Homo sapiens: one gene and its partner. The protein of the gene in region 2 interacts with the protein of the main gene of each other region in a pairwise test. Each region holds a gene or a part of one and is shown on either strand. Other genes may lie near its edges. The genes, in order: FSD2 and CORO1A.

The links.
Region 1: the proteins of CORO1A (region 2) and FSD2 interact in binary tests that used the Homo sapiens proteins (3 or more experiments, as listed by UniProt).

The regions. Positions count from the first base shown.
Region 1 is NC_000015.10:82,749,146-82,763,772, forward strand, and holds the end of FSD2 (fibronectin type III and SPRY domain-containing protein 2), read right to left. Parts: intron 13,134-14,627; coding exon 12,957-13,133; intron 10,456-12,956; coding exon 10,203-10,455; 3' UTR 6,217-10,202; downstream 1-6,216.
Region 2 is NC_000016.10:30,175,608-30,190,899, reverse strand, and holds CORO1A (coronin-1A), read right to left. Parts: upstream 7,299-15,292; 5' UTR 7,175-7,298; exon of another isoform or gene 7,129-7,174; intron 6,752-7,128; exon of another isoform or gene 6,481-6,751; intron 6,397-6,480; exon of another isoform or gene 6,112-6,396; intron 5,692-6,111; 5' UTR 5,691-5,691; coding exon 5,493-5,690; intron 4,303-5,492; coding exon 4,180-4,302; intron 4,085-4,179; coding exon 3,955-4,084; intron 3,862-3,954; coding exon 3,677-3,861; intron 3,519-3,676; coding exon 3,399-3,518; intron 3,176-3,398; coding exon 3,071-3,175; intron 2,959-3,070; coding exon 2,813-2,958; intron 2,709-2,812; coding exon 2,651-2,708; intron 2,540-2,650; coding exon 2,324-2,539; intron 2,041-2,323; coding exon 1,936-2,040; 3' UTR 1,824-1,935; downstream 1-1,823. UniProt on the Homo sapiens protein: May be a crucial component of the cytoskeleton of highly motile cells, functioning both in the invagination of large pieces of plasma membrane, as well as in forming protrusions of the plasma membrane involved in cell locomotion.

The DNA of each region.
Region 1 (14,627 bases), on a different chromosome or scaffold from region 2:
GCCATCTCAGCTCACTGCAACCTCCACCTCCTGTGATCAAGCGATTCTCCTGCCTCAGCCTCCCAAGTAGCTGGAACTACAGGCACCTGTCACCACGCCCGGCTAATTTTTGTATTTTTAGTAGAGGCGGAGTCTCGCCATGTTGGCCAGGCTGGGCTCAAACTCCTGACCTCAGCTGATCCGCCCACCTCGGCCTCCCAAGGGGCTGGGACTACAGGCGTGAGCCACCACGCCCGGCCCCTACCCATCCTTTAAAGGGATACTCCGAATGTCTATGAACACTCAGATAAAACTGAACTAAATTTGAATCCACTTGTACTACATTTATTTGTCAACTCTTCGTTTGTCTACTTCTTGAGAACTTTAACAGCTGTACTGGGTTGGTTAGTGTCGCCCCCAAAATTCATGTCCTTCCTGGAACCTCAAAATGTGACCTTATTTGGAAAGAGTGTCATTGCAGATGTGATTAGTCATGATCAGGTCATACTGGAGTAAGGTGAGCCTTTTACCTAACAGGACTGGTGTCCTTATAAAACACACAGAGACAGAGACACACAGGGAGTATACCATTTGATAACAGAGGAAGAGAATGGAGTAATGCAGCTACAAGCGAAAGTACACCAATGATTGCTGGCTCCCACTAGAAGCTAGGAAGAGGCAGGAAGGATTCTATCCAGAGTCTCAGAAGAAGCAAGACCCCACTGACATCTTGATTTCTGACTTCCAGACTCCAGAAAGCGAGAAAATATATCTGTTGTTTTAAGCTATCCAGTGTGAGGTACTTGGTTATGGCAGCTTCAGAAAACTAATACAACAGCAATTTCAATTTCTACTTTATCTTCCTAGCCCCAAGAGTACCATGTGGCTATTAGAGTACAGGATTATGTAGGCTCTCAAATCCCTTCCATGGTAAAAGAATGATTGGGCTTCCAGCAGTGGCCAAGAATTGCCAGACGCTTATGAGCGCCTGCTGCGAGATGCTTGTACAGTGAATGCTCAATAAAGTGGTGGCCATTATAACCGCAAGCAATGAGACTACATAAATAGTAAGAAACGAAATAGAACAAGGGGCAGCGGGAGCAAAGAGAGAAACAAGGGCAGCTGAGGAAGGAAGCCTCAATTCCCCGGAGGACATCCGCGGGCGGAGGAAATGTGAATCTGCAAGTCGTTCTCCCAGACCCCGCTTAACGATTCCCGGCCCTTTCTCCACTCCCTACAGCCCTCGGACCCAGCAACAACCGGATCCTGTGCAGGTCTTCCCTGAGTCCAACGCGATTCTCCTGGATAACGTCAACCAGCTGAGCGATTCTGAGCCTGCGCGAAGCTCCTCGGCGCTTCCAGTAATGTCACGCTGGTGCGTGGGGCGGGACTTCCTCTCACGCGCAGGAAACGAGAAGGGCTTTTCCGCCGGAAAGAGAGTGGATTTACTAGGAAGGTGGGACGTTGGAGGGGTGGCCGCATGGAGTGAGTACTGTCTCTGGCCACCGAGCAGAGCCAGTGACAGCAGCGTCCTGGTAGGCAGGCAGGCGTATCAGGTTTCAGAGGATGCGGCTGGGAACGGGAGTAGAGGTGAGGGGTCGTTGCATCTGTCGCGGTGTGTATCTTTTGGGGGTTCAGCGCCACCAGCGACTTGGGCCTCATTCATCGCGCTTACATTTCTCCACCTCATTTGAAGAACGAGCTTCGTAGCCCACGGAGCTGAGGTTAGTATAAATGTGGAAGGGAGAAGTATGCACTCACCAGACTAAAGTTTACAGTTTTCACATAGGTTGTGCTGTTCTGTGTCCCATAAGGGCCTGCGAGAACCCAGACATTCTGAATCGGTGACGCCTGCTGGAGGCAGCAACACCTGTTGCATTAATTTTAGAACACACACACACGGAGTTGGTAATTCTTAAGCTTCCTGAATCTGCTGGCGGTCATTTGGTGTCAGAAGCAGAGCAAAGCCATCTTGGTCATCTCCCTCCTTTTAGCTTAAACCGAAGCATGATGGGGGAGATAGGCCGAAAGTTATACAGCTTGTTAATAACAGAGCCGAGAGTGAAAGCGCGATTTCTTCATTTTTAGCCCGGAATTATTTGTTGTACACCATACTGTTTCTTTGCATTGCTAGACAATTCGTCTTTTTTTACGAGGTTGACGGGGAGTTGCAAGGAGGAGTGAAAAGGGTGGTAATGTACATCTACATACAGTATAAATCCATGAAAGGCAAAATCCGTGTGTGTTAGGAGTTAGAACTGTGTCAGTCATCTACATCTTCCATAGTTTGTAGATGGAGATGAGTCTGTCACGTCGCTCTGTCATTTCCCTTTTAGCAACAGATGTGTAGTAACAATATGTGAAGAAGGAACTTTCATTGCCTGTTACATACATTTACACAGAGCGGCCTGGGGTTCACTGAGCAAGCTATGTGCTCACCCTAGAAAACTGATTCTGTAGAGTGCACTGCAGTCAAACCTCAGCTGTTTTAAGTAATCTTACATTTGGTGCTTGTGTGGCTTAAGTGTCTTGTGCATTATTGCAGTCATCTCTCTCATGTTATGAAATGGAAATGTGTTGTAGGAAAGTGGCAAGCCTGTGAAGAAAGTAAGTGAGCCTGAGGCCCAGAAAACCATACATTAGCAAATACTGAAAAACTGTTCACATCACATAGGGGGTATCTGAAGTACTGAGGAGCTCATTTAACCGGATGTTCATTGTGGGGAAGCCATGAATAGCCTCCCTCTCCTGGGTTCAAGCGATTTTCCTGCCTCAGCCTCCCGAGTAGCTGTGATTACAGGTCCATGCCACCATGCTCGGCTAATTTTTGTATTTTTAGTAGAGACAGGGGTCTCACCATGTTGGCCAGGCTGATCTCGAACTCCTGACCTCAGGTGATCCTCCCACCTTGGCCTCCCAAAGTGCTGGGATTACAGGTGTGAGCCACCGTGCCTGGCTCCTATATAAACAATTTTCAAACTTGTTGGTCTCAAGAGCCACTTAACAGTTATTGAAGACTCCAAAGAGCTTTTGTTCATATGAAAATAGTTTTGACTTCACTAACCCCCAGAAGGGCTTTCAGAAGCCCCCACAGAAACCAACTTTTAAGAACTACTTTATGCAGATGTTTCAAAGACATTTTAGATTATGTAGAGGAATGATTGCTGTTGTGATTGTGACATAAGCAGAAGTATCAACTTAAAAATGCAACAACAAGCACAGTAGCTTGTATTTCCAGTAGCTGTATAATTCCAGGCACAGAGAACACAAACAGATGTCCATTTTTAATTCTTTTCTTGTTTTTTTTGAGACAGGACCTCACTGTCACCCAGGCTGGAGTGCAGTGGTGCAATCACAGCTCACTGGCAGCCTCGACCTCCTGAGCTCAAGAGCTCCTCCACCTCAGCCTCCTGAGTAGCTGGGGCCACAGGTGTGTGCTACCACCCTGGCTAATTAAAAAAAAAAATGTTTTGTAGAGACAGTGTCTCTCTGTGTTGCTCAGACTGGTCTCAAACTCCTGAGCTCAAGCCATCCTCCCACCTTGGCCTCCTGAAGTGTTGGAATTACAGGCGTCAGCCACTGTGCCTGGCCTGTGATATTTTTCTATGCTTGGAAAGTTTATTAATCAGCTAGGATACTTCTCTACAAAAATACACATATATAACTTGAGATTTAAACTTTTCTCAGCCAGCTGTGGTGGTTCACACCTGTAATCTCAGCACTTTGGGAGGACAAGGTGGGTGGATCACTTGCGCTCAGGAGTTTGAGACCAGCCTGGGGCAACAGGGCAAAACCCCATCTCTACAAAACTGCACCCAGCTATTTTGTATTATTTTTATCTCGTTGCTTTTTTTTTTTTTCTTTTTCTTTCTTTCTTTTTTTTTTTTAGTGGTTTCAGGCAGTGGTTCAGACCAGCTGCTAGAGAATCATGGGCTAAGAAGAGAAGACTACCAATTTAGTAGATTTGGACATGGACAAGCCACAGGCAGTTTCTCTTCTCACTCTCTTGGCCAGTCATCTCTTGCTCACCTTCCCCTGCCAGTAGCCAGTAGCATGTGACAGCCTCTATATTCCATCTCCCTTTTCTCCCTCTTCCAGAACTAAGATGAGTTTTCAATGGATAACTGTACAGAAACATACCCACTGCTGAGTTTATAATAAATAGGTAAATGGTGTTTAAAATGCCTTCTGTAGGAATCCTTGGTAGATAGTTATATGTGGTTGTTTTTTGGGAAGTTGGCTTGAGGTTCTTTGAAGGGCTGGGAACGTGTATTTCTTTTGCGTGTGCCTGTGTGTGTCAAAATTTTATATGTTCATCAGTGCTCTACACGTTCAGAGAAACGTTTCCAATAACGAACCATAGAATGATCCCTGGAGCATAGGATCCCACTGTTTGAAAATTCTAGCCATCGATCACTTTATAAGAAAAGGATGAAATTTCAAACAAGGAGTTTGTTTATCTGATTTCCACCCTACAGATAATATATAAATTTGGCCAAAGTTGTTTGGGGAAGAGGGGCTGTTGTTAGGTACTGAGCTATAATACTTTGTTGCTTTGTATCACTTTTAAAAGTGACTTTTAAAGATACTTGACATTTGAAAAGGAATCACCTTTGATCTTTCTAAGTCCCTAATTTGACATTACCTTTATAGCATATAATTTATTCCATAAAGTCTTAGATCCTGAAACTAGTGGAAAGCCAAATACTCATGTTGTGCTATAAATATAGGATTGACAGTTAAGCTTACTCAGTAGTCAAGGGGGCGGCTTTCACTCACCAGCCTCCAGGGCATATGAACCAAATTTATGATTCAGAACATTTAAAATATACATTTTGAAGATCTTTGGGCTCTCTTAAGTATAGTCTAACTATAATAAATATTAAACATGTCAAAGGTCTCTTGCAGTGTTGGGAAGAGCATTCTAAACCACATACATCTTTCCCATCCCCAGATTGTTCTGTGTCCCCTCCCACTCTTCCCAGATTAGAAGTCACCATGGAGCACTATTAGTAATGGGACTCTGTATCAGATCTTTAAGGTGTATTGGGACAGAAGAAAGGTTGATATTTTGGGGTTGTTTGTTTTTTTTGAGACGGAGTTTTCACTCTTGTTGCCCAGGCTGGAGTGCTATGGCGTGATCTTGGCTCACTACAATCTCCGCCTCCCTGGTTCAAGCAATTCTCCTGCCTCAGCCTCCTGAGTAGCTGGGATTACATGCGCCCACCACCATGCCCGGCTAATTTTTGTATTTTTAGTAGAGACGGGGTTTCATCATGTTGGCTAGGCTGGTCTCGAACTCCTGACCTCAGGTGATCTGCCTGTCTTGGCCTCCCAAAATGTTGGGATTACAGGTGTGAGCCACCATGCCCAGCAGGTTCATATTTTTAATGTTTCCTTCTACTCCCCAAGCACACACAAATTTGAAAGCTGCTTTGCTTTCTAATAAAGAGGCTTTTCCTTTGATTTTGGAAGATAATTTGATGTCTCTTTTCTCTTTGCAGGTATATGAGCTCCCTGAAAGCACAAAGCAGTTATTTCCATCTTCAGATCATTCAGAGATTATGAAGGCACAAACCCTGCCTTCAATTTGCTTATAGTCAAGTGGAGCAGACACAAGTCAATGATTGCAGTATAGCCACTGAAGTAATCTAAAAGAGGTGAGTGTGGCACTTAACCTCTCCTGGGAGGGGGAGGAATAAGGCAGTGTTTCCAAGAGGTGATTTTGGAGCTATACAGGCATTAGGTAGACAAGGAAGGGGAGGTCCATTCTGGGTGCCTAGGACTCTGTGGCTGATTTATAAATCGTAAATGGTACAAAAAACAGTGTTGAGTATCTTTTACCTTTCTCCAGAGTACTGTTCTTACTTTTGGATAGTGCTTCTTGTTTTTTCCTTCCCTCTCCCTGTCCCTGTCACCTTTAAATTAAATGAATGTTTGGAAGGAAGTAGGAGGGTAAGAATCTTTCTGGGTGGCAGAATAATAGATGGGTCTACCAAGAGCGATGTATATACCCAGTAAAGCCATCTCTAAAACTGTGTTTCTGCATTGTTACAGTGCATAGTTGGGAAATCTCAGTTTTGTTGGCTGTGTACTTTCCCAGTGAATGGATTATATTCCTTTCTGCGAGCCAGTCTGTTTGAATTTAAGGGCATCTCTTAAATTCCTTTCAAGCAAGAGACCTAACATTTATACTTAGGAATGAGAGTAGTAGAGACAGCAAGATTAGAATCCAAGTTCATATACCAAAACATTTTTATTTGCTATGTCTGAGTGACTACATGTTGTTTGAATCAACTGCAGGCTAATTTGTAACATTTCAAATAAATGATAGTTTAATTCCTCCAGGATTTGAGTAAGGTGAAAATAGAGCTAAAAACCATGATTCTGTCACAGTCTGGGAAAATGAAAAAGCAATCAATTAGTGAGTTGGGCTTAATTTTTTTTTTTTTTTTTTCTGGAACTGGTGATAGCAGAAAACAAGCAGTAAAGTAGTCAGACATGATATACTTGACAAGAACCACCACCTGTTCAGTAGCAACTCTAAAATAAGTACTAACTTAGGGGCAGTTGTTGTGCCCAGGTCATAGTCATACTCCTTCCAGGAGACTTCCTGATGACAGAAAAGATGCTGACCAGCTGGGGTCTTCTTTCCAAATAACTTTTCTCTTGCATTTAGATTAATTAACCATTGGTTACAGTGAAACAAGCATATGTACAGAGTTAATCTCCTATAGCTTGAAGTTATACATGATCTTTATTTGAGTATCTTGACTTGTTAAAGGACAGTGTTTTAAAAGCTGGATTTGGTTATGTTCTTCTGGAGACTAAGAAAATAGAGTCCTTGAAATCAAGCTGACTCTGCTTTTAGCCTCCTAAATGAAAAGGTAGATAGAACAGGTCTTGTTTGCAAAATAAATTCAAGACCTACTTATCTACCAACAGCAATTACACGCTTTCCATTGTCTTCCTATAGAAAATAGGAGTAGTACACTTATAGATGAGAAAACTGGAGAAAGACATAGTGAACATGTGAGAATCTTGCTCTACTAATTGATAGGAAGGTGACTAGAAATTGGCGAAGTTTTCTTGGTAAGTTGAGGAGAGGACTTTTCTTATAGTGCAGTCTGGTAGCTGAACCGCCTTGCATCAAGACCAATGTAGTCTTATTTACAGAATGCCACATCACAGTGAATTGTGCTGTGGACAGCTTCCAGTGTGTGAGTTGTGGAAGATGATGATTTTAACAGATTTTGGAGGATGAGAAGTATTAAGAAGAAGGCCCCACTGTCCATGCATTTGCTCTGCTTTTTACTTTTGACCAAGTATACACTTCAGAAATATCTTATTGGATGTATACAAAGTGATTGTGTGTCATTTGAACCAGCAGGAAGTAATTTATTAAACACACTTTTCTAAATAAAAGTCATTTAATTTTATCAGAAATCAGTGTCATTTTAGATTGCAAGTCTCAAACCAACTTTCCAATTCTGACTTGTAAGGGTGCCTTAAATCCTGAATACTGTACTCTGTATTACTAAACCCATGTTAGTTTACGCCAAGATTCTGTGGTGGTTTTACATATTCTTTTTCCCCTTTGTTAAGGTGGGGAGGCCACAGCTTATGTGAATGACTTTCTCAGGAGTTATAAAGTGATACAGGTAAAGCTAAGAAAAGAACAGATTTTGATAACTTTTGTTTTAACTGTCCAGTGTTAGGGATTGTGGCTACAGTGGTCTAATTTTTAAAAACTCTTTTTTTTGCTTTGTTTTTTAACAGACTTATCAGCAGGTTGCAGGTGAACATGGCCTTGAGGTAAATCTGTCCCTTGCTGAATACAGTTTCAGTAGATTGTTTATAGTAGTTTCAGGAATTGAGATTTTTTACAAAAATACAAAAGTTTTGCTTGGTTCTGTTCTAGATGTTTTCTTCTAAATAAATGAGAAAGATGTTTCAACAAAGGCTCTTTATGCTGAATAATTGTGATGCTTGAAGTTGCTAATCTGCTTTAAGTGGATTTTAAATGTCAGGCAATTCTAGACAGTTTTTTCTTGGTCAAATAAAAATTTAATTAAAACTTTATACGTGTTGAGTTTTTAATCCATTTATCCGTGTTCATACTAACGTGTAGTATTCCATAAAGCCTATTAGAACCCTGAATTCAAACTTGCCTTCTCTGTGATATCCTGTTTCTTACTTGGTAGTTTCTATTTCAGTAGCTGAGAACTTTTTTTTTTTTTTTTTTTGAGATGGAGTCTTGATCTGTGAGCCATCTCGGCTCACTGCAAGCTCCACCTCCCGGGTTCACGCCATTCTCCTGCCTCAGCCTCCCGAGTAGCTGGGACTACAGGCGCCCGCCACCAGTCCCGGCTAATTTTTTTGTATTTTTAGTAGAGACGGGGTTTCACCGTATTAGCCAGGATGGTCTCGATCTCCTGACCTTGTGATCCATCCACCTTGGCCCCCCAAAGTGCTGGGATTACAGGCGTGAGCCACCGCGCCCGGCCGAGAACATTTTTAAATATACATGATATGTATCTTTTAATTGTTTATAACTGGAACTATTTCTGTGCTTACATCTGCTGTCCCTTGTTTCAGAGTAGACAGTCCAGCTTGGCAGGATAGGTGTGTGTGTGTATAACGAGTTATTAAATTGTCAGTGTGAATTGTTAATTCAGGAATCTGAGCTGCCATTTATACGAGTAGGCAGAGTTTAGTAGGAGATGAGAGTCTTTCAGTTTGTCAGACTTTGCAGGTGCTGGAAAACATCAGAGGTTTTTTGTTTGTTTGTTTGTTTGTTTTTGAGACAGAGTTGCGCTCTTGTTGCCAAGGCTGGAGTGCAGTGGCACAATCTCGGCTCACTGCAGCCTCTGCCCCCGGGTTCAAGCAATTCTCCTGCCTCAGCCTCCTGAGTAGCTGGGATTACAGGCGCCCACCACCATGCCCGGCTAATTTTTTGTATTTTTAGTAGAGACGGGGTTTCGCCAGAAAAAAGAAAAGTGGACTTTTTTTTTTTAAACACAAAACCTTAAATGATGAGATTAGGGCATATCTGGGTTTAGAGGCATCTGTGGGACATGATACTGAATTGTAATTGCTTCACAAATGGAATTATTCTGCAGCTTCACTCACAAGCTTTGAAAATGCTGTGTGTGCAGAGCTTAAGTGGCAACTGGAAACTTGAACAGGAGAACCAGGAATGTAGCTGATGGAGTTGGGCATTGAGCTCACAGAATGGCCTGGGGGCAGTGAGGCAGGATGCCTGAAAGCTGCCTAGCTAGAGATCAGTCTTCCTTCCCGTGCTCAGCTTTGCCCTTTGGTGGGCTGTTAATTTCTTTTAAAAAATTGTTGTGCATTTGCTAATATGCCACAGATGCCCTTCTGTTCTTTCACGCTGCCTCCATTCTAGGTTTTTTCCCATTTCTTGGCCATAGGTCCTTTGCTGTAGTTTTGAAAGAGCCCTGCCATCCTTCACATGGAGAGCAGTAAGAGGCCAAAGAGCAGTGGCTGAAGAAGATACTAATTTATTCAACAAATACTTGGTGACAGCTGTTATGTGTTAGCCCTTGGTGATCTAGCAATGAACAAAACAGGCACTGTCCCTCCCTTCATGGAATTAGGCATTATAGAGGTAATTTCAAAATTAGAGAGTGGTGCATACTGTGTAGGAGTGGAACAGGGAATACCCTGTATGCAGAGTACACAGTGGAAGGGACCTCACCACAGTGCTGCTCACTATTGGGAAAACGAGGGTAGAAGACATTGAGAAGGGCACACAGCTTCCCTGGTTCTCTACAGACAGCCTCTCGCCTTCTCAAGTGTATTCTTGGCTGACTCATGAAATGCATGGGTGTACTGGTGCTGCTGGAGCCATTAAGACTACCCTCGTCCTCTCCCAAGCTCTCTAGGTCTTGGAAACTCAAGATATTTTGCATATACACGAATATAGTTTGACAGCTTCAAAGACTTTTGAGTTCGTTTAGTCTGAGCCTTTATTTTACAGCTGGGCCTGGTAATGACTATCCTAGCAGCACACAGGTAGCAGCACACAGGACTAGAATCCAGGTTGGGTGAAATGAGCGCTAGCACACCAGTCAGATAATAGCATGAGCCATAAATTGTGCTGGGCACATGGTGCTTAAGTGCCAGGTTCAGCCAGCTAAGGCGTGAGCAGCTGCGAGAGGGGTAGGCATGGAAGACAGGAAACTGGACATCAGAATGTTCTAATAGAAAGTGACATGTTTTGGCATTGAAATGCCATTATGTACCTTTAGACACCCAGGCTTTTCCAAAGAAAAACAGGGATGCACAAATTCGTGAAGCTGACAACTAAATGTATATAGATGCTGAGAAAGGTCCACATTGAAAAATGACAACTTTGAATGTTCATAGTCTAATAGAATGCCAATCTTCTTTGGTGGAACTGTTATTCTTATATCTGGAGTTGTTCTGTTGTGCAGAAATTCATACTTATGCCTGAAAATTAAATTTGACATAATAAAGTTTCAGTAATTCTATAGATTGACTATTTATAGAACATTTCATACTAATTTTATTCATAGTCCTATGATTTTGCTATTTTCTAGTATTAAATGACTACCAAGGTGACAAGCCATTTCTAAAACTATACTCTCTAAACTATCTCTTTTCTAAAATTTGTCCTAAGAAACATTTTCTTTTTTTTTTTTAGATGGAGTCTTGCTCTGTCACCCAGGCTGGAGTGCAGTGGTGCAATCTCGGCTCACTGCAACCTCAGCCTCCTGGGTTCAAGCAATTCTCCCACCTTAGCCTCCTGAGTAGCTGGGATTACAGGCGTGCACCACCAAGCCCGGCTAATTTTTGTATTTTTAGTAGAGACAGGGTTTCACTGTGTTGCCCAGGCTGGTCTCGAACTCCTGAGCTCAGGCAGTCCACTTGCCTTGGCCTCCCAAAGTGCTGGGATTACAAGTGTGAGCCACTGCTTCTGGCCGAAACATTTTTCAAACATCATTTTTTCTCTAGCAACCTCTTAACCTAAGAAATTTACCTATAGCATCCTGAACTCTCTTTCATCTAAACTAGCATAGGAATAGAACATGTTTTTAAAATTTGGATTAGACATTTGAAACAGGGAACCTTGTGATTTTCCATGTGATAAAATGGGCTTCTTGGTATAAGCTCTTCTATGCACAGTTACTCCAGTTCTTAAACTTTCATATTGAGTGGGGAGCCAGTGGGCCTGTTACCAATCAATACTATATCACTATCCATGCTCTACATCCTGTGTACTTTGAAAAATGGCAGAAATGAAAACCTGTCACAGGAATTTCCTAACCCTGCTACCTACAGATATTTGAAGAGCTCTTTGTGTCAACAGGCTAGTCTAGGCTACTGGGATAAACACTTGGAATATGATCTAAACGTGTCAGAGGAAGCCTGCCTGTCTCTAGCCCATTTCACCTTAATTTAACTAAGCAGCTGCCAGAAGCTATGAGTCGTTTCTTCTACTTTCTATGCTACCACCAATAAAGTCTAATACTATGAGCCAAAAATGCAAGTCTGCTAGGAGACCTTATCCTAGGATACCTTACCTTCATTCTCCACTTGTAACGTGTGTGCACGTGTGTGCGTGCACGCACACACACACACACACACACCCTACATCTGTAAGAAACTGGCTTGGCTCTAGCACTTGGACTGTAGCTTTTGCCCTTCTTTTGTCATTCTTCTGTTTCCACCCCTCTTCTATTGTGTCTTCTTACCCCCTTTATTCTTCCCTCTACACGTGGACTTCTAGGCTTTCTTTATGCTCCCTTAGTTTTACTCTGCCCCTTGTTCTTGCCTTTCTAAAGAAGAGACTTTGCTCTTTAGTCTTACTTCAGGCAGAATCCCCAAATAAAGTATCTGCCTCAGTGTATAGTAATTCTTGGATTCCCCAAACTGGGTGTGAGGTTTAGTAGATTTCATTAGAGTCTTCATCTGTTATCGGAGGGGAAGTTGGTTTTCCCACTTATGCTTGGGCATGACACATAATGTGTAAATAACCATGATAGAGGATCATGGGCAGAGAGCATTGGATGAACATTAATAGGATTCATCAAATCAAGGAGGGTCAGAGGCCCCATTTTACAAGGTGTGATAGGAAAGCAGTGTGGGGTCTTGTTTTTCAGTTTTTGAGGTGAAGGAAGGTTGTAACCATGGCCTTCTAAGTCTGAAAGTGTATTCATTGGCCTGGGCTTCGTGAGACTTTTTTTCCCACTATATGGAACTACTCCATGTGTAAAGACAGAGTGCCCAGCAGCAGGAGCAAACCAGAATTAGCCATAACTACTAAGCCTCTTGCCCACATTTACTTAAAAAGATGGAACTGGGGCTTCAAAGCAAACTGTATTGGCTTAATACTAAAGGTGAACAGAAATGAAAAATCTATCACTTAAGTGGTTAGGAATGAAATCTTTGGAACCAGACTGCTTGAGTTTGAATCCAAGTTCCAAATCCATGTCGTTTGGATTATCTAATTGCTGTGAGGTGTGGTCTTCTTATTTTTATTCTTTTATTTTATTTTATTTTTTTATTTTATTATTTTTTTTTTTTTAGAGACGGGGTCTTGCTATGTTGCCCAAGCTGGCTTTGAAGTCCAGGGCTCAAACAATACTCCTACCTCACTCTCCTGAGTAGCTGGGACTACAGGTGCACACCACTGCACCCAGCATTCTGATTTTTCAAATGAGATAACACAATTGTGAGAAGTAAATGAGATAATGCATGTAAGAGTACTTGGCACATAATTCTCCATAAATTTTAGCTATTTTTAGTTGAAGAAAAGCTGCTCTTTCTCCTCTTACTTGGACTTTAGGGAAAGTGGCTGGCAGCAACTCCTGAAATATCTTAAAATATTTGTAAAATATAACGTGTGTCTTAATTATTGCTAGTGAAAAGGTCTTGCTGTAATCTTTCAAAAGCAAATTTTAATTGTGAGTATCCAGATTTTACTTTACCTTGATGATGCAAATGTGTGCCTCATGCACCAGGAGAGGCAATTTGCTCCCAGATCCTCCTGTTTACGGACATCTGCAAAGGCCACACCAACTCTGTAGTCCAAATGCTCATCCACCTCCACCTCCCAGTAATGGTGCCCTCGGACTGGAATTAGATTTCCCATGACAGCAACACACCTGGTTTTAGAAAGTGGAAGCATGTGTGATCTGGGGTGCCCCAAGCCTGGCTGTGCAGGTCAGTGATGCCAGTTGCTGGGATCAGTCAGTCGGTGGTCTACGAACGTGGTGGTAGGTGCTTCTGGACACTTAACTTGTAAAGTACCCTTAGCTCTCAAAGCTCAGTGGGCTGATACTGAAGATTTGAGATTATGTTACTGCTTGGTAATGGGAGAGGAGGAGGCACTAAACCAACAGAACAAGTTTTGTTTGCTCTTTAAAATGGTTGGGGCTTTCATAGAAAAAGGTTTGGTTCACTTGTTCATAAAAAAAGAAAAGGGTTGAAAATACACAACACAGCACGGTTAAGGGAACCATAAGCTTGAAGTTCACCACCATTGCTTATGGTACTAAATGAACATGGAAGGCCTTTGAGGTAGCCATCATGTTAGGGATGACTCCTGGTGGAATTCAGAGGCCAGCCCAAGGAGAACAAGATAGCAGATTCCTCACAGATCATTAAAATCTACCTCCACTGTTGCACTGGGAACAATTATACTGACAAAGATTAGAGTTATGTTTTGTTCTACATCAGCAAAGTATCAACAGAGGAAGGTTTTCAGTGAAAATCAAATTATACTGGTATCTCCAAAGTGAATATTCTACCTTCTTCAGGAGACTCCTACATTAACCAAAATATATATAGACCTCAACATCCCTAGAAAGATTTGTTCAGTTTAAAATTTTCTCTCTACTTTCAAAACCCCAAGTTCTTACTGCTCAAGCAAAGCTTTGGGAAGGAGGTTGCATGTTGGTTAACTTCTACCTCGGTTACCTCACCTATAAAATGAGGCCATCTCTGCTTCAAGCTCCAGACTCACATTTCCACTTGTTGTTTCAAATTCAGAATGTCCCAAATGGAAAAAGTCATATTCCCACCCCTCTTATCTACCAAAGTTTGGGGTGTAGTGGGGAGGGGTACATACTTCTCACATCTCCATTTTGGTTAATAGAGTCATTATCTACCCGGTAACCCCCTGGTGGAAAACTAAGATGGGAATAATGTAGTGGCTACAAGCTCACCTTCTAGTTTGATTCCTGCTTCAACCCTTAATAGCATTATACTCTTGGGCAAGTTACTTCTCTGTGTTTTAAGTATTCTCATCCGTCAACTGGGATTGGTAATAGTACAGGGCTGTTAGGATGATTGCATGAGATGAAATACATTTAGCACTTGGTAAGCACTCTATAAATATGGCAATATGATAGTCCCTGACTCATCTTCCTCTCTGTTGCCCTTTAAACAGGTGAGCACCTAGCCTTGTTGGTTTTATGTGCTCAACAGCAGTTGACTCCCCTGGCTCCTCTCACCCATGCTACTGCGTAGTCAAGCCCTCCATAGTCTCCTCTCTGGTCTCTGTTTCCCATCTGCCTTTGCCTTTCCCTCTCCCTCCCCAGCTCACGTTCTACCATGCACTGGAATCTTTCTGAAATGTAATCTGATCTTGTTCCCCT
Region 2 (15,292 bases):
AGGCTGAGGCAGGCAGATGACTTGAGGCCAGGAGTTTGAGACCAGTCTGGCCAACATGGTGAGACCCCACCTCTACTGAAAACACAAAAGTTAGCCGGACGTGGTGGCACATGCCTGTAATCCCAGCTACTTGGGAGTCTGAGGCACGAGAATGGCTTGAACCCAGAAGGCAGAGGTTGCGGTGAGCCGAGATTGTGCCATTGTACTCAATTTGGGCAACAAGAATGAAACTCCATCTCAGAAAAAATTAAATAAATAAAAAAGTGGGGAGACTTGGACTCTGACTTGGGATCTGCCCTTCAGTGAGCTGGGCTCCTGCTCCCGGCCTCAGTTTCTTCTCTGGTAAACTAGGATCAGCCTGTTGCCTTAATTCTGTCTTTTCCTTAGAAGAAGTTCCCCTGTTTCATATATTAAAATATATAATATATAAAACATATATATAAAATATATATAATTTATATTATAATATATAATATAATATAATATAATATAATATATATTATAATATATATTATATATTATACTATATTATTATATAGTATAATATATAACTTATTACTATATAATATAATATATAATTTATTATTATATAATATAATATATATTATATATTAAAATATATAATTAATATATATAATATTTATATATTAAAATATAATATATATAATATTTATATATTAAAATATATTATATATAATATATTTATATATTAAAATATATAATATATATAATATATTTATATATTAAAATATATATGATGTATTTATACATTTAAAAAATATATATATATATATATATATATATTTTTTTTTTTTTTTGAGACGAAGTCTCACTCCTGTCCCCCAGGCTGGAGTACAATGGCATGATCTCGGCTCACTGCAACCTTTGCCTCCCGGATTCAAGCAATTCTCTTGCCTCAGCCTCCTGAGTAGCTGAGATTACAGGCGCCTGCCACCATGCCCAGCTAATTTTTGTATTTTTAGTAGAGATGGGGTTTCACCATGTTGGCCAGGCTGGTCTCGAACTTCTGACCTCAGGTGATTCACCCACCTCGGCCTCCTAAAGTGCTGGGATTACAGGCGTGAGCTGCCACACCCGGCCTATTTATATTTTTTAGAGACAGTGTCTTGCTCTGTCACCCAGGCTGCAGTGCAGTGGTGCAATGGCTCATTGCAGCCTCGACCTCCTGGGCTCAAGGGATCCTCCTGCCTCAGCCTCCTGAGTAGCTGGAACTATAGGTGCCCACCACCATGCCTGGCTAATTTTTTATTTTATTTTTCGTAGAGACGGTATCTCGCCGTGTTGCTCAGGCAGGTCTCAAACTCCTGGGCTCAAATGATCCTGCCGCCTCAGCCTCCCACAGTGCTGGGATTATAGACGTGAGTCCCCATGCCCAGCCTCCCTCGTTATTTTTATCTTTGGACCTGCAGTTTAAAAGATGCCTACCCTGTAAGTGATGGTTGGTTCATTTCCTCACAAGCAACAGTGCCAGCAGAGTCACGTGCAACGTGATGTTTTGGTTGACTAGGAAAGGCAGATTTTTGGTAAATTTGGGAATTATTGAGGTTCTAAGCTAGGGCCTTAAATAGTTCAGCTGTGTCAGCTCTGAGAAGGAGCTCGGAAACGGAGAGCAGCCTCCTGGCCCACATCAGCATGGCTGGTTTCTACCCACGAAGGCCCTGTTCCTGTGATGTAGTAAGTCAGGGGGCATCCCACATCCCCTGCCATGGGTCAGTCCCCTCAGCGCGGTGGAGGGGAAGCTCTAGGGCTGGTTGGTTCAGCAAACTGCGTGTCTAGGGGACCAGTCATCAGAGTCTGGGAGGTACCAGAAAATAAAGCCATTTTATTATGATTTTTTTCTCTGCCATGTGGCTGGGAATGGGAGGTGAGTGGATGGGTGTGAATGGCTGACCCTGCTGGAGGCCCTGCGGGGCTCTACTTGGCCTGGACTGTCTCCTCCAGCCTGTCCAAGCGCTTCTGGAGCTCCTGCACCGTGGCCTGGAGCTTCCGCATCTCCTCCTCCAGCCGAGACACGGCATCCTGGGGACCCGGTGCTGCATTAGGCCCAGCTCCTCCCTGGCTCCCCTTACCCCAGCCTCTGCTGAGCCCCATCCCTAGAGCCCTGGCCTTGGGCCCTTTAGTCGCTCAGCTGGTTGCTGCCTGGAGACCTGCAGGCCTATCAATCTGAAACCTGTGTTCTGAGGCCTCAGGATTACCATTCCCGGACCCACAAAGATTCCCAATGTTGTGAGTTTGAGGTGCCCCAAACACCAGCCCCACCCCACCCTCCCAGTTTTATTCCCTGGCTTCCCAGCCCTCTCACCGAGCTGGGAGTGCCACTGGCCTCTGGTGCTGCCCTCCTGCGCCCGGTGTCCAGGCCCCGGTTGACCCTCAGCTCCCGGCTCTTTGGGGGTACGTAGCCATCCTTGAGGGAGATGAGGAGGGGCCCAGCATCCCGACCCCCCAGCCACTCCTCAGCCGTGAGGGCAGGGTCGGGCCCTGCGGTGGGTGGGTACAGGTCCTCCTGGAACAGGTCCGACTGTGGGCAAGGCCAGGGATAGTGAGGAAAGCGCTTATGCCAGGACACCCCCCACAAGACCGCAAAGTCAGTGCCCAGCCTGGAGCCCAGGGTGGGGCGGGGGAGCATCACCTTTCGAGGCACTGTCATGGCAATGGGCTCACACCTCCGCTCGTGCAGCTTGTAGAACCTGTGGGAAGGGGAAGGTGAGCGGGGCCCACAGTCTGGTTGGGTGGGCTTGGGACTGCCCACTGCCCAAGGAGCATGCTGCGGTCAGGGCCGGGGGTCAGTCACCTGGCGATCTCACACTTGTTCACCTCCAGGCCACGTTTGGGCATGTAGCCCATGCCCCGCTGGGACTCCTTGGAACTGAACATGGAGAGATAGTGCAGGAAAGGGGCCTCGGAAGTGATCTCAAAGTACCGGATTGAGCTGTCACCCTGTAGGTGGCAGGTGTGGAGGGAGGGTCAATACCAGCGGATGCCCACTGCCCTGGCCCTCTCCAGGCCCATCCTGCCCACCTCCCACCCCCACCCCGCCCGACGAGGCCACCTTGCCACAGAGGTAGACGATGTTGGTGTCAGGGTCAAAGAAGGGCAGCAGGACACCGCTGCTGGTGTCCAGCTCCTGCAGGGACAGCGGCTCCTCCAGGTGCTTCTGTAGACACAGGTGAGAGGTAACATCCCAGGCCCTGGGATGGTGGTCTTCCCTGGGCAGTGACCTGTGAGGGCCCTCCCGACCAACCAGTGGGAACAACCATCTCACGCCTGGGTAAACTGAGGCCCATGGCCATCCTGCCAGGTGAGTGGCAGAGCAGGGACGAAACCTCCAGTCTTGGTTCCCAGCCTGGGGGCCCTCGGCTTCCTGCCCCAGCACTCACTGTGTCCCACAGCGCCACCTGCCGCTCACTCATGCGGCTGAAGCCCGTGGTCAGGATCTTCCCCTCCGACACGAACACTGCACGCACGGGCCGGGTCCCCTCGTGGGGACGGTCCTTCTCCTGCAAGGAAAGGGAGGTGGTAGGTCAGGCACCCGTACATACCCTACGGGGCCAGTCCCAGGTGGAGGCGAGGGAGGGCAGCATCCAAGGGCCTGGCTGATGGTGGATAAGAAGGATAAAGGCTGTAGGGTCAAAGGTCAGGGTAGATGGCGACTCACAGCTACGACAGTGCCTTTGCGGGGCTCGATGATGCGCACGCGCTTGTCACGGCAGGAGGTACAAATGAGGCCTCCATCTCGGCTCCAGTCCACACTGTAGATCGTGTCTGGGTGCACCTCTGGGCCCAGTGTCAGCATGGCCGCCCCAGTGCCCACGTCCCACACCATGATCACGTTGTCACAACCTGCACGTTCCCCACAGTGTCAGAAGCCATGAGCCTCCTGCCCTCATCCACTGCAGGCCACGAGCCACCCCCAAGCCCCTCCTCCCGCAGCACCTGCACTGAGCAGCACGTTCTGGGCTGTGGTGTGCCAGGCCACAATGCCCACACGCTTGGTGTGGCCCTCCAGGGTGACGACGGGCTCCCGCAGGGGCAGCATCAGGCCCCCATCTGGGATCTCCCACACCTGCAGAGGAGGGGCCAGTGAGTCTTCAGGACTCCAAATGTCAGATCCCATCCTAGAGCCCCTCTCCCAGCCCCTGGGTCCCCACCACCACTCACCATGACTGTGCAGTCCTCGGAGCCACTGGCAATGACGTTGTCATTGTGCGGGCACCAGGCGATGTCTAGCACAGGGGCTGTGTGGCCACAGACCGTGGGCGCATTCTTGTCCACACGTCCAGTCTAAAGGCACAGCAGGGCCTTGGAGGTGCTTTTGCCTCCCAAACCCAATCCAACCTCCCCACACCTCCTTCAGAGAGGCCCAGAGAGGAAAGCTGTGGTGTCCCTGGGAGCTGGACCAGGGCCTGGGGTGGGGACGGGGGCGGGTTGTTCTTCTCTTGTTCCAGTCCCAAAATGGCCTGGGCAAACCCCAGGAGGGCTGGCCACGCATGGCAGAGGTTGGGGGCCGTGCAAGACCCTGGCAGAGTTCCCGCCGGTCTCTGTCTCAGTCTGTCTCTGCCCTTAGGGTTGGCACCCCCACCCCAGCTTCCCCGAGTGAGGCTTCCATGGGCACAACTGGCCCTGGAGCCAGGACAGGTGTATGGGGGCTGGGGGGGTGGAGGCAGCTCCCCAGAGAGCGAGTGTGAGTGGTGGGGCTGCAGGGGTGGGTCCTCCCAAAAGGAGAGGGGCCAGGGAGCCTGTCCCAACTGGCCCCAGGCAGGAGCAGAGGTTTGGAAATGGCTTCTTCCGGGGACAGCTGCTTCAGCAGGGCTTCCTGTGTGACAGCCATGTGGGGCGCGGGCCCAGCTCTCACCCCGACAACCACTTCCTCTTCTCTTTGCTTCCATCAGCCCTTTTAAGGTAACAACTTGGGGCCCATCTCCCCTTCCTGTCTTACCCCCCAAAGAGCACAGGAGTGTGCTGGGGGTGCGGGGCAGCAGCCAGCCAGCGGAGGGGGCAGCAGGCTCCAGGGGAGGGCAGGGCTGCGGGTGGGGGAGAGCACCTCTTGCATCATCCCTGCCTGCGAGCTGGGGGACAGAGTTGCTAGGTCCTCAGACAGGCCCAGAGCCAGAGTCCCTCCCAACCCTGAGAACGCTGCCAGGGCCCCCAGACCCCATCCCAACCCCCTCTGTGTTTCCATGGGGAGAAAGCCCCAGGCTGAGGCTCAGGAGGGCTGATCATGGGTCTGCAGGACTGTCTGTAGTCCTGGTCACTGGTGTGACCCATCTTGTGTTGGCTCCTTCTGAGCGTCAGTTTCCACACAGCCACAGCACAGAGGAGCTGGAGGAAGTGTAAGGCTCATGGGGCCCAGCTCAGTTTTCCAGATGGCAACACAGGCCCTGGAAGGCCTGGTGACCGTCACCTAATCAGGACCTGCACAGAGCCATGGGTCCGGTGGAGGAGCTGCTCCCCCCAGGGCCCCAGGGGCTCACCTTGCCCAGGGGCAGCACCAGGAAGGCCCCTCCCCCGCTGGCCTCACAGATCAGGGCCACAAACTTAGGGTTGACAGCACAGAAGCCACTGTCCCAGGTGGTCTGTGAGACGCGCACATCTTCATAGCACTGGTCGGCCTTGGCCGGCTGTCCAAACACGTGGCGGAACTTGCTGGAGCGGACCACCTGCCGGCTCATTCTGGGGGCACACAGCATAAGAGCATTTCTCCCTTCAGGTCAACTCTGATCTTCCAGTGGTCCCCACCTCCCCCAGGACACCCCTCAGTCTGGCTTTTAAGGTCCCAGCATCATCTCCAGGGGCTCCCTATTCTTCCCTCTGTGGCTGATGCCTGCTTGCCTTCCCCAGCCTCTCCTTCCCTCTAACCTGCAAGCCCCCTTCTCCCTGGCCCCAGGCCACTCTGAGCCACCCTCTCAATCTGTACCCTCAGCCTCTGCAACAGAGCCTGGCGTGGTGTTGCCCCACTGCATGTTTGTTGACTGACTGGCTGATGGATGCAGAGCCCGTCCTTCCTAATGGTTCAGACTCAGGCGTCATCAGCCCAGATGGCTCCGAGGGTGGGTTCTCTCTTAGTTACCGTGTCCAGAGCCCACCTCCCTCACACCCACACAGCGCTTCCTAAAGGCAGGGACAGGAGCTGGCCTCCCTCGCCTGCTGGCATGGGGCTGGACACAGGAGGAAGTGGCGTGGGGGCTGCCTGAGGGGAGTGAGGCGGCAGGATAGCTTCCCCAGCAGGTCTCTGGCTCAGGTCCAGGTATCTCCTCCTCCCCATACCTCTGCCTCTCGCCTCCGCTCAGAAAAGCAGGTGCCCTTAAGAGCCATCTCCACCCCCATGTAAACTGCACACAGGAAGGGAGAGGCCACTCCGACTGCTCTGAGGTCCAGGTAGGATGGTTTCCCCCAGTGTCTGGGTGGGGAGCAAGGAACTCCAGGGGCGACCTTGTGCCACCGCATCACCTTCCTGCTCAGGGAAGGGGCCTGTGCTGCCGCTTGGAGGGTGCCATGCCCAGAGCCTCTGCCCCTAGCCTCAGCCTCGCCTACTCACTGGGGGCTCCAGCACCCCCGGCCACCCCAGGACTCCCGAAGAGGCTGCTAGGTCGGCCTGCCCAAAGAGCGGTGAGGAGCGTATGTGAAGAGCCCCAGTCTTGAGGAGCAGCCTGTATCTGGAGAGAGGGGAGCCCCGGACCAGAGGTGGGGGACAGGAAGCCATCGCCCCACCCTGCCTCCTCCCCCACCACAGGTACCAGGCCCGGAAACCACGGAAAGGGGAACTTGGTCTTTTCTTGTTTTGCTCTCAACCCCTTCCTGTCTCCAAGCCCAGGGCAGCTGCCCCGCTCACCCCACCCTGCCCTCGTCCCCACCCTCCCCGAGACTCAATTCCGTGGGGAGTCGGGCCCTCGACACTGTGCTGACCCCCGGCCACCCACCTCCATCTTGGCCGCGGTGGTCCCTAGCCCTCGCCTCCGCAGAGCGCTCTGGGGCCCCGGCGGCCCCCACTCCAAGCAGCGTCCCCCCACGGGCTGCTGCGCCCGCTACCTGGCCCCGGCGCTGGCTGGGTCGCGGTGACAGCCGCGCGCCCCCGCAGCCCGCGGCTCCCACGCGCGCGCCGCCCCACAGGTGGCCCTCGCCCCGGCCCACCCGCGCCTCCCAGGCCCAGCCTCACCTGCTGCCGAGAGAGGACAGTGATCCCCCAAAAGCCGGAGGTGGAGGAGGAGGAGGAAGAGGAGGAAGGAGCTGGAGGAGCCGGGGACTCGCCCGCTGAAGATGCTCTTGTCAAGACAATGAATGAGAAGCAGCCGTGCGCCCGCCTCCGGGGTGGCCGCGCCCCTTGGGGCGGAGCTCTTCCAGGCCCGCCCTGCGCTCCCGGGCTCCCGCTGCGGCCGCCTCTCTCCCCGGCCCCTGCCCGTGCACCACGTTGGTCCCCAACCATAGCGCAGGCTGCCATCCCGGCTCCGGGAAGCGAATCTAAACTTCTTTTTAAAATGTCAAAACGCAAGAGCACCCCATTGCTTCTTTCCTCCCTGCGTCCGCCCCCAGCCTCCTCGCCAGCCTTTCCCTGGCAGGCACGAAAGCGCCCCAGGCCCGCCCGCCAGGCCTCGGTGCCCGCCCCGGCCCGGCTGCGCCGCCCCTTCCTCCCGGCCCCGCAGACGCGAGCGCAGGGGGCGCGGGGGGCGCGGGGGGCGCGAGGGGCGCGGGGGGCGCGGGCGAGGAGGAGCCCCGAGCGCGCTCCTGGACCCCCGGGACCTGGCTCTTGCCTGGCTCTGAGATCTAAGCATGGGTGGCCCCGGGAGTCGCTTCTCCTCCCTGGATCTCCTGGCTTCATCGGGAACACCCCTGCCCTCCTGCTGAAATAATCCGGCATCACGGGCACCTACTTCGTGCCAGGGGCTACAGGGTCGAGCAAGGCAGGCAAGCCAGGCAGGTTTCCGCCCCTGAAGAGCCCAGCCTGGGGGAAGGAGGAGGAGCCCACGGCCGCTCCAAGCCCTGGCTTTGGCGAAGGCTCGAGGGCAAGGAGGAATAGTTCCCACCCTTGGATTCAGAGAGGCTTCTGGAGGCAGCAACAGCGGGCAGGAAAGGCCTGCTCTAGAGTCAGACTATGTCATGAGTGCGACCGCAGCCTGTCACCTGCTGAGTGAGGTGTGGCCGCTACTTAGCCTTTCTCAGCCTCGGTTTCTCCCTCTGTAACAGTCATACCTGCCACGTAAGAGGTATGGGGATGATTACCTAAAATAACCCAAGGAAGTCAGTAAGGACCTCATCTAGAAAGTGGCGGGTGCTTAATAAACGTTAGCTCTCAGCCATGCGTAGTGACTCACGCCTGTAATCCCAGCACTTTGGGAGGCCAAGGCTGGCGGATCACCTGAGGTCAGGAGTTCGAGACCAGCCTGGCCAACATGGTAAAACCGCATCTCTACTAAAAATACAAAAATTAGCGTGGTGTAGTGATGCACCCCTGTAATCCCAGCTACTGAGGAGGCTAAGGCATGAGAATAGCTTGAACCCTGGAGGCAGAGGCTGCAGTGAGCCAAGATTGAGCCACTGTTATCACCCAGTCTTCTCTGGGTGAAAGAGCAAGACCGTCTCATTTTAAAAAAAGTTAGCTCTCATCATTCTTGTTTAAAAAGTATCTGGGCTGGGCCTGAAAGGATTAGGAAGAGCCAACAGGCAAGGCTAGAGGGGTGACCTGTAGGCTGAGGGACAGCCCTGTCGTGTGGAGAAGTTCAAGGAACAGCAAGGGACGGGTTCAAGTCCCACCTCTGCCACTGACTGGCTGTGCGATCTTGGCCAAGAGGGCTAATCTCTCTGAACCTCATTTTGTCATTGGTAAATGGGGAATTAATAAGATTTGAACTGCCCACCTCACAAAGTTATGAGGCTCTGGCCGGGCGCAGTGCCTCACGCCTGTAATCCCAGCACTTTGGGAGGCCAAGGCGGGCAGATCACGAGGTCAGGAGATGGAGACCATCCTGGCTAACATGGTGAAACCCCCTCTCTACTAAAAATACAAAAAATTAGCCAGGCATGGTGGCAGGCGCCTGTAGTCCCAGCTACTTGGGAGGCTGAGGCAGGAGAATGGTGTGAACCCAGGAGGCGGAGGTTGCAGTGAGCCGAGATCGTGGCACTACACTCCAGCCTGGGTGACAGAGCGAGACTCCATCTCAAAAAAAAAAAAAAAAAAAAATTACCCGGGCATGGTGGTGCATGCTTGTAATCCCAACTACTCTGGAGGCTGAGGCAGGAGAATTGCTTGAACCTGGGAGGCGGAGGTTGCAGTGAGCTGAGATGGCACTATTGCACTCCAGCCTGGGCAACAAGAGTGAAACTCCGTCTCAAAAAAAAAAAAATTAGCTGGGCATGGTGGTGTGCGCCTGTAGTCCCAGCTACTCGGGAGGCTGAGGCAGAAGAATCGCCTGAACCCAGGAGGCAGAGGTTGCAGTGAGCCAAGACTGTGCCATTGCACTCCAGCCTGGGCAACAGAGTAAGACTCCATCTCAACAACAACAAAAAAGTTACTAGGCTCAAATGAGACAATAAATCTGTAAATCTTTTATAGATTATTCAATTGTAAAAACCTTAGGGCTGTACTGTACTCAAAGGCCTGCGACTGGACGGGACTAGACCGAGATAAGGTGGGTACTCTGATGTGCCGTCTCCCACAGAAGTGACAGGAATAATAACTGGCTTTTATTGAGTGCCTACTATGTGCTGGGCACTGTTCTAGACACTATACTATGTTCATGTAATCCTCATAGCACCCCTGGGTAGCAAATACTATCTCCATTTTACAGATGCAGAAACTGAAGCACACACTGCCTTCAGCTCTGGAGGGCCTCATGTCCACCCACAGGACGAGGGCATTGGTGAAGGACCTGAAAACTAGGCTCCTGAAGGTGGCGAGCCTGACGGCCCTGGAGAGGGCAAGGTGCAGGCAGACAGTGCTGCTTTCAGAGGCCAAGTGGGCTGCAGCAGGGGAAGGGGTGGGCAGCCTTGGGGCTGCCACAAAGGTCAGGGGCAAGGCTGGTGGGTGGAGGTTCTGGGAAGCAGATGTCCATGCAGCATAAGAATTAGTTACAGCAGTGAGTGGGGAAGGCCCTGGCAAGGCTCTCCATGTTTGAGAGGGGGACAACCTTTTCAAAGGGTGTCCTTATAAGGGATGTCAGAGGGCATTTGCCCAGGAGCGGCGAGAATCACTTGAGCCTAGGAGTTTGAGACCAGTGTGGGCAGCATAGCAAGACCCCATCTCTTAAAAAAAAAAAAAATGAAATTAGCCAGCTGTGGTGGCATGTGCCTGTGTTCTCAGCTGCTTAGGAGGCTGAAGTGGGAGGTTCGCTTGAGCCCAGGAGTTCCAGGCTAACAGTGAGCTATGATTGCACCACTGCACTCCAGCCTGGGTGACAGAGGGAGACCCAGTTTCAATTAAAAGAAAAAAAAGGGGGACCTTTGCCTCTCTTGTTCCTGCTGGTTTAGCTCTTACCATTGCCTCTCTCTTTTTTTTTTTTTTTTTTTTTTTGAGACAGGGTCTCCCTCTGGCTGGGGTGCAATGGCACGATCACAGCTCACTGCAGCCTCAACCTCCCACGCTCAAGCGATCCTCCCATCCATCCTCAGAGCCTCCCGAGTACCTGGGACCAGAGGCACATGCCCAACACACCTAGCTAATTTTTTAAATTGTTGGTAGAGACGGGATCTCACTATGTGGCCTAGGTGGGTCTCGACCTCCTGGGCTCAAGCAATCCTCCTGCCTCAGCCTCCCAAAGTGGTGCAATTACAGGCATGAGCCACCGTGCCTGGTCCCGTCGCCTCTTTATTGGATTTTCTTTTGGGGAACCAACCTCTCCTCACAGGCACTCCATGAGGTTCAGGAGGGGACCTGGCGTATTCACATGGCCTGTGCTTCCCAACCAAAGCAACCTGTTTTCATTGGCTCAGGGATGGGCACTTGATTCATCTTGTGCCCAAGACTCACCTTGGAGCTGCTGTGAAAAAGATGCCCTCTCTCCACTGGGAGTTAGGAAGCTGATAGGATGTAAGCCCAGCACTGCTGGTGATATCTTGTTGGTATGCAGGAAAAGCTGGTCAGAGCAAGGTGCAGTGGCTCACGCCTGTAATCCCAGCACTTTGGGAGGCCGAGGCAGGCAGATCACCTGAGGCCAGGAGTTTGAGACCAGCCTGGCCAACATGGCAAAACCTGTCTCCACTAAAAATATAAAAAGTAGCCAGGCATGGTGGTGTGCACCTGTAGTCTCAGTTGCTTGGGAAGCTGAGGCAGGAGAATAGTTTGAACTGAGGAGGTGGGAGTTTTGGTAACCCGAGATCACGCCAGCCTGGACGACAGAGCAAGACTCTGTCTCAAAAAAAAAAAAACAAAAAACAAAAACAAAAAAAACAGCAAAAAGCTGGCTAGGATGGGTCTACACAGAGGCCTGAAGAGGCCAGATATGAAGAGACATATTCTTGAGATCATTTGAGTGTCTGGATCAAGCTGTGCCTGAAACCCTTAACTTTCCTGTTGTATAAGGCAATGCACTTCTTTTTCACGTAAGCCAAGAAGTATGAGTTGGATTCCTGGCACTTGCAGCTGAAAAAGTTCTGATTACACCTACCCTGGAGGGAGACAGGACCAGAGGCCCTTCCAAGGAGCCAGATACCTACAGTAGAGGTAGACTGAAGTGTTGGAATCAAATCATTACTCCTCTTTTTATTTTTATTATTTATTTATTTTTTTTTTTTTTGAGACAGAGTCTCACTGTCACCCAGGCTTGAGTACAGTGGTACAATCTCTGCTCACTGTGACCTGCGCCTCCTAGGTTCAAGCGATTCTCCTGACTCAGCCTCCCGAGTAGCTGGGATTACGGTGCATGCCACCTTGCCTGGCAAATTTTTGTATTTTTAGTAGAGAGGGGGTTTCACCATGTTGGCCAGGCTGGTCTTGAACTTCTGACCTCAGGTGATCTACCCACCTGGGCCTCCCAAAGTGCTGGGATTACAAGCGTGAACCACCATGCCCGGCCAAAGTCCAATGTCTTTAGCAAGGTTCACAGAGCTTCCCTAGTCTGTCTTGCCCAAAGGAGGCTGTGGAGCATGGTGGGGTCAGGCACCCCTGATAACCTTGGTTTCAGCATCTCCTTACTGTCCCTGGCCAGGTGCGTTTTCCTCATCTAGGACAGGTGCACAGTGGCCCTCACTTTATAGAGGATGAGGACTAATGGAAACTAGCTATAAATGCTGGGCACAGTGCCAGGAACCAGGCTGGAGTGTGCTGGCAACTTTCCCTACCCCCTCCGCCTTCTCCATGGAGAAAGTGTGGCCCTAGAATGACACACGTAACATGCTGTCTTTGGGAAGTCACTTCCACTTGGAGTTTCTGCCCTTAGCATGGTAGCATGCTTTGTAAACATGTGAAAGGGACCCTTTTCTTATTTTTCTTATTTTTTATTTTTTATTTTTTTTGAGACAGAGTCTTACACTGTCGCCCAGGCTGGAGTGCAGTAACCCGACCTTGGCTCACTGCAACCTCCACCTCCCAGGTTCAAGCGATTCTCCTGCCTCAGGCTCCCAAGTAGCAGGGATTACAGGTGCCCGCCACCACGCCCGGCTAATTTTTTGAATTTTTTTTTTTTTTTTTTTTTTTTTTTTTTTGAGACAGCGTCTGGCTCTGTCGCCCAGGCTGGAGTGCAGTGGCGCGATCTCGGCTCACTGCAAGCTCCGCCTCCTGGGTTCACGCCATTCTCCTGCCTCAGCCTCTCAAGTAGCTGGGACTACAGGAGCCTGCCACCGCTCCCGGCTAATTTTTTGTATTTTTAGTAGAGACGGGGTTTCACTGTGTTAGCCAAGATGGTCTCGATCTCCTGACCTCATGATCCACCCGCCTCGGCCTCCCAAAGTGCTGGGATTACAGGCGTGAGCCACCACGCCCGGCCAAATTTTTTGAATTTTTAGTAGACATGGGATTTCACCATGTTGTCCAGGCTGGTCTCAAACTCCTGACCTCAGGCGATCTGCTCATCTTGGCCTACCAAAGTGCTGAAATTACAGGCGTGAGCCACCGTGCCCAGCTCTTTTTCTTATTTTTTATTTAATTTAATTAATTTATTTTTGAGACAGCGTCTCACTCTGTCGCCCAGGCTGGCGTGCAGTGGCACAATCACAGCTCACTGCAGCCTCCACCTCCCAGGCTCAAGTGAGCGATCCTCCCACCTCAGCCTCTCGAGTCACTGGGACTACAGGCAAGTGCCATAATACCCAGCTAATTTTTAAATTTTTTGTGGAGATGGGGGTTTTGCATTATTGCCCAGGTTGGTCTTGAACTCCTGAATGCAAGCAATTCTCCCGCTTCAGCTTTTCCCAAAGTGCTGGGATTATAGGCCTGAGCCACCTCACCCAGCCCTCTTTTAATTTTTTTAGAGACATGGTCTCACTGTGTTGCTTATTTTCTATCCTCTTCCTCACCCATCTGTCCATCCATCCACCCACCTACTTGTGTCCCAGGCAGGGTGCTTTGTGCTGGGGATTCAGAGGCTAATTAGCACACTCCTGCCATTAGAGAACAGCTGATTAAGAGAGGAGTGATGAGCGCTGGAGACCCAGGCCAGGCCAACAGTGCCCTGCGAACTAATTCCAGGCCTTTTTTTTTTTTTTTTTTTTTGAGACAGAGTTTTGCTCTTGTTGCTCAGGCTGGAGTGCAATGGCGCAATCACGGCTCACTGCAACTTCCACCTTCCAGGTTCAAGCGATTCTCCTTGCCTCAGCCTCCTGAGGAGCTGGGATTACAGGCATGCACCACCAAGCCTGGCTACTTCCATATTTTTTTAGTAGAGACGGGGTTTCACCATGTTGGTCAGGCTGGTTTGGGACTCCTGACCTCAGGTGATCCGCCCACCTCGGCCTCCCAAAGTGCTAATTGCAGGCCTTTTATTGGAACTTTCTGTTGGATGACTCACATTATAGGATAGAAGTCTAAGAAATGCTGGTAGTCATCCCACCTTCATCTGAAGCAAAACTGCCTGAGAACAGAACCAACCTAGAGGACAGTAGGGTCAAGAAAGGGAGAGAACAAGACAGACTCCCGGAGCCCGCCCTGGGTCCAGCCGCACTTGAAGCTAGATCCTTTCCATTATGTGAAGCAACAAATTCTCTCTTTTTTTTTTTCCTTATCAAAATTTGAACTAGGTTTCCTTCTTCTTCTTCTTCTTTTTTTTTTTTGAGACAGAGTCTCGCTCTGTTGCCCAGGCTGGAGTGCAGTGGTGCCATCTCAGCTCACTGCAAGCTCCACCTCCTGGGTTCACGCCATTCTCCTGCCTCAGCCTCCCAAGTAGCTGGGACTACAGGTGCTCGCCACCATACCCGGCTAATTTTTTTGTATTTTTAGTAGAGACGGGGTTTCACCCTGTTAGCCAGGATGGTCTTGATCTCCTGACCTCATGATCCGTCCGCCTCGGCCTCCCAAAATGCTGGGATTACAGGCGTGAGCCACTGCTCCCGGCCCTTCTTTCTTCTTTTTTAACTTTTGATGGTAATAAGGATTTATCTCTTATTATTATTATTATTATTATTTTTGAGATGGAGTTTCACTCTGTTGTTCAGGCAGGAGTGCAATGGCACAATCTTGGTTCACTCCAACCTCTGCCTCCCAGGTTGAGGCGACTCTCCTGCCTCAGCCTCCTGAGTAGCTGGGATTACAGATGTTCACCACCATGCCCAGCTAATTTGTTTCTATTTTTAGTGGAGATGGGGCTTCACCATGTTGGCCAGGCTGGTCTCAAACTCCTGACCTCAGGTGATCTGCCTGCCCTGGCCTCCCAAAATGCTAGGATTACAGGCGTGAGCCACTGCGCCCAGCCTATTTTATCTGTTTTCAAGAATTTGTTAACTTTATTTTTATTTTTTGAATCAGGGTCTCACTCTATCACCCAGGCTGGAGTGCAGTGGCTCGATTAGAGCTCACTGTGGACTCGACCTCCTAGGCTCAAGCAATCCTCTACCTTGGGCTCCTAAAGTGCCGGGACTACTGGCATGAGCCACCTCATGCAGCCAATTTTTTTTGAGACAGAGTCTCATTCTGTTGCCCAGTCTGGAGTGCAATGCTGCAATCTCAGCTTACTGCAACCTTCACCTCCTGGGTTCAAATGATTCTCCTGCCTCAGCCTCCTGAGTAGCTGGAATTACAGGCATGCACCACCACACCCAGCTAATTTTGTATCTGTAGTAGTGATGGGGTTTCACCATGTTGGCCAGGCTGGTCTCCAACTCCTGACCTCAAGTGATCCTCCTGCCTCAGGCT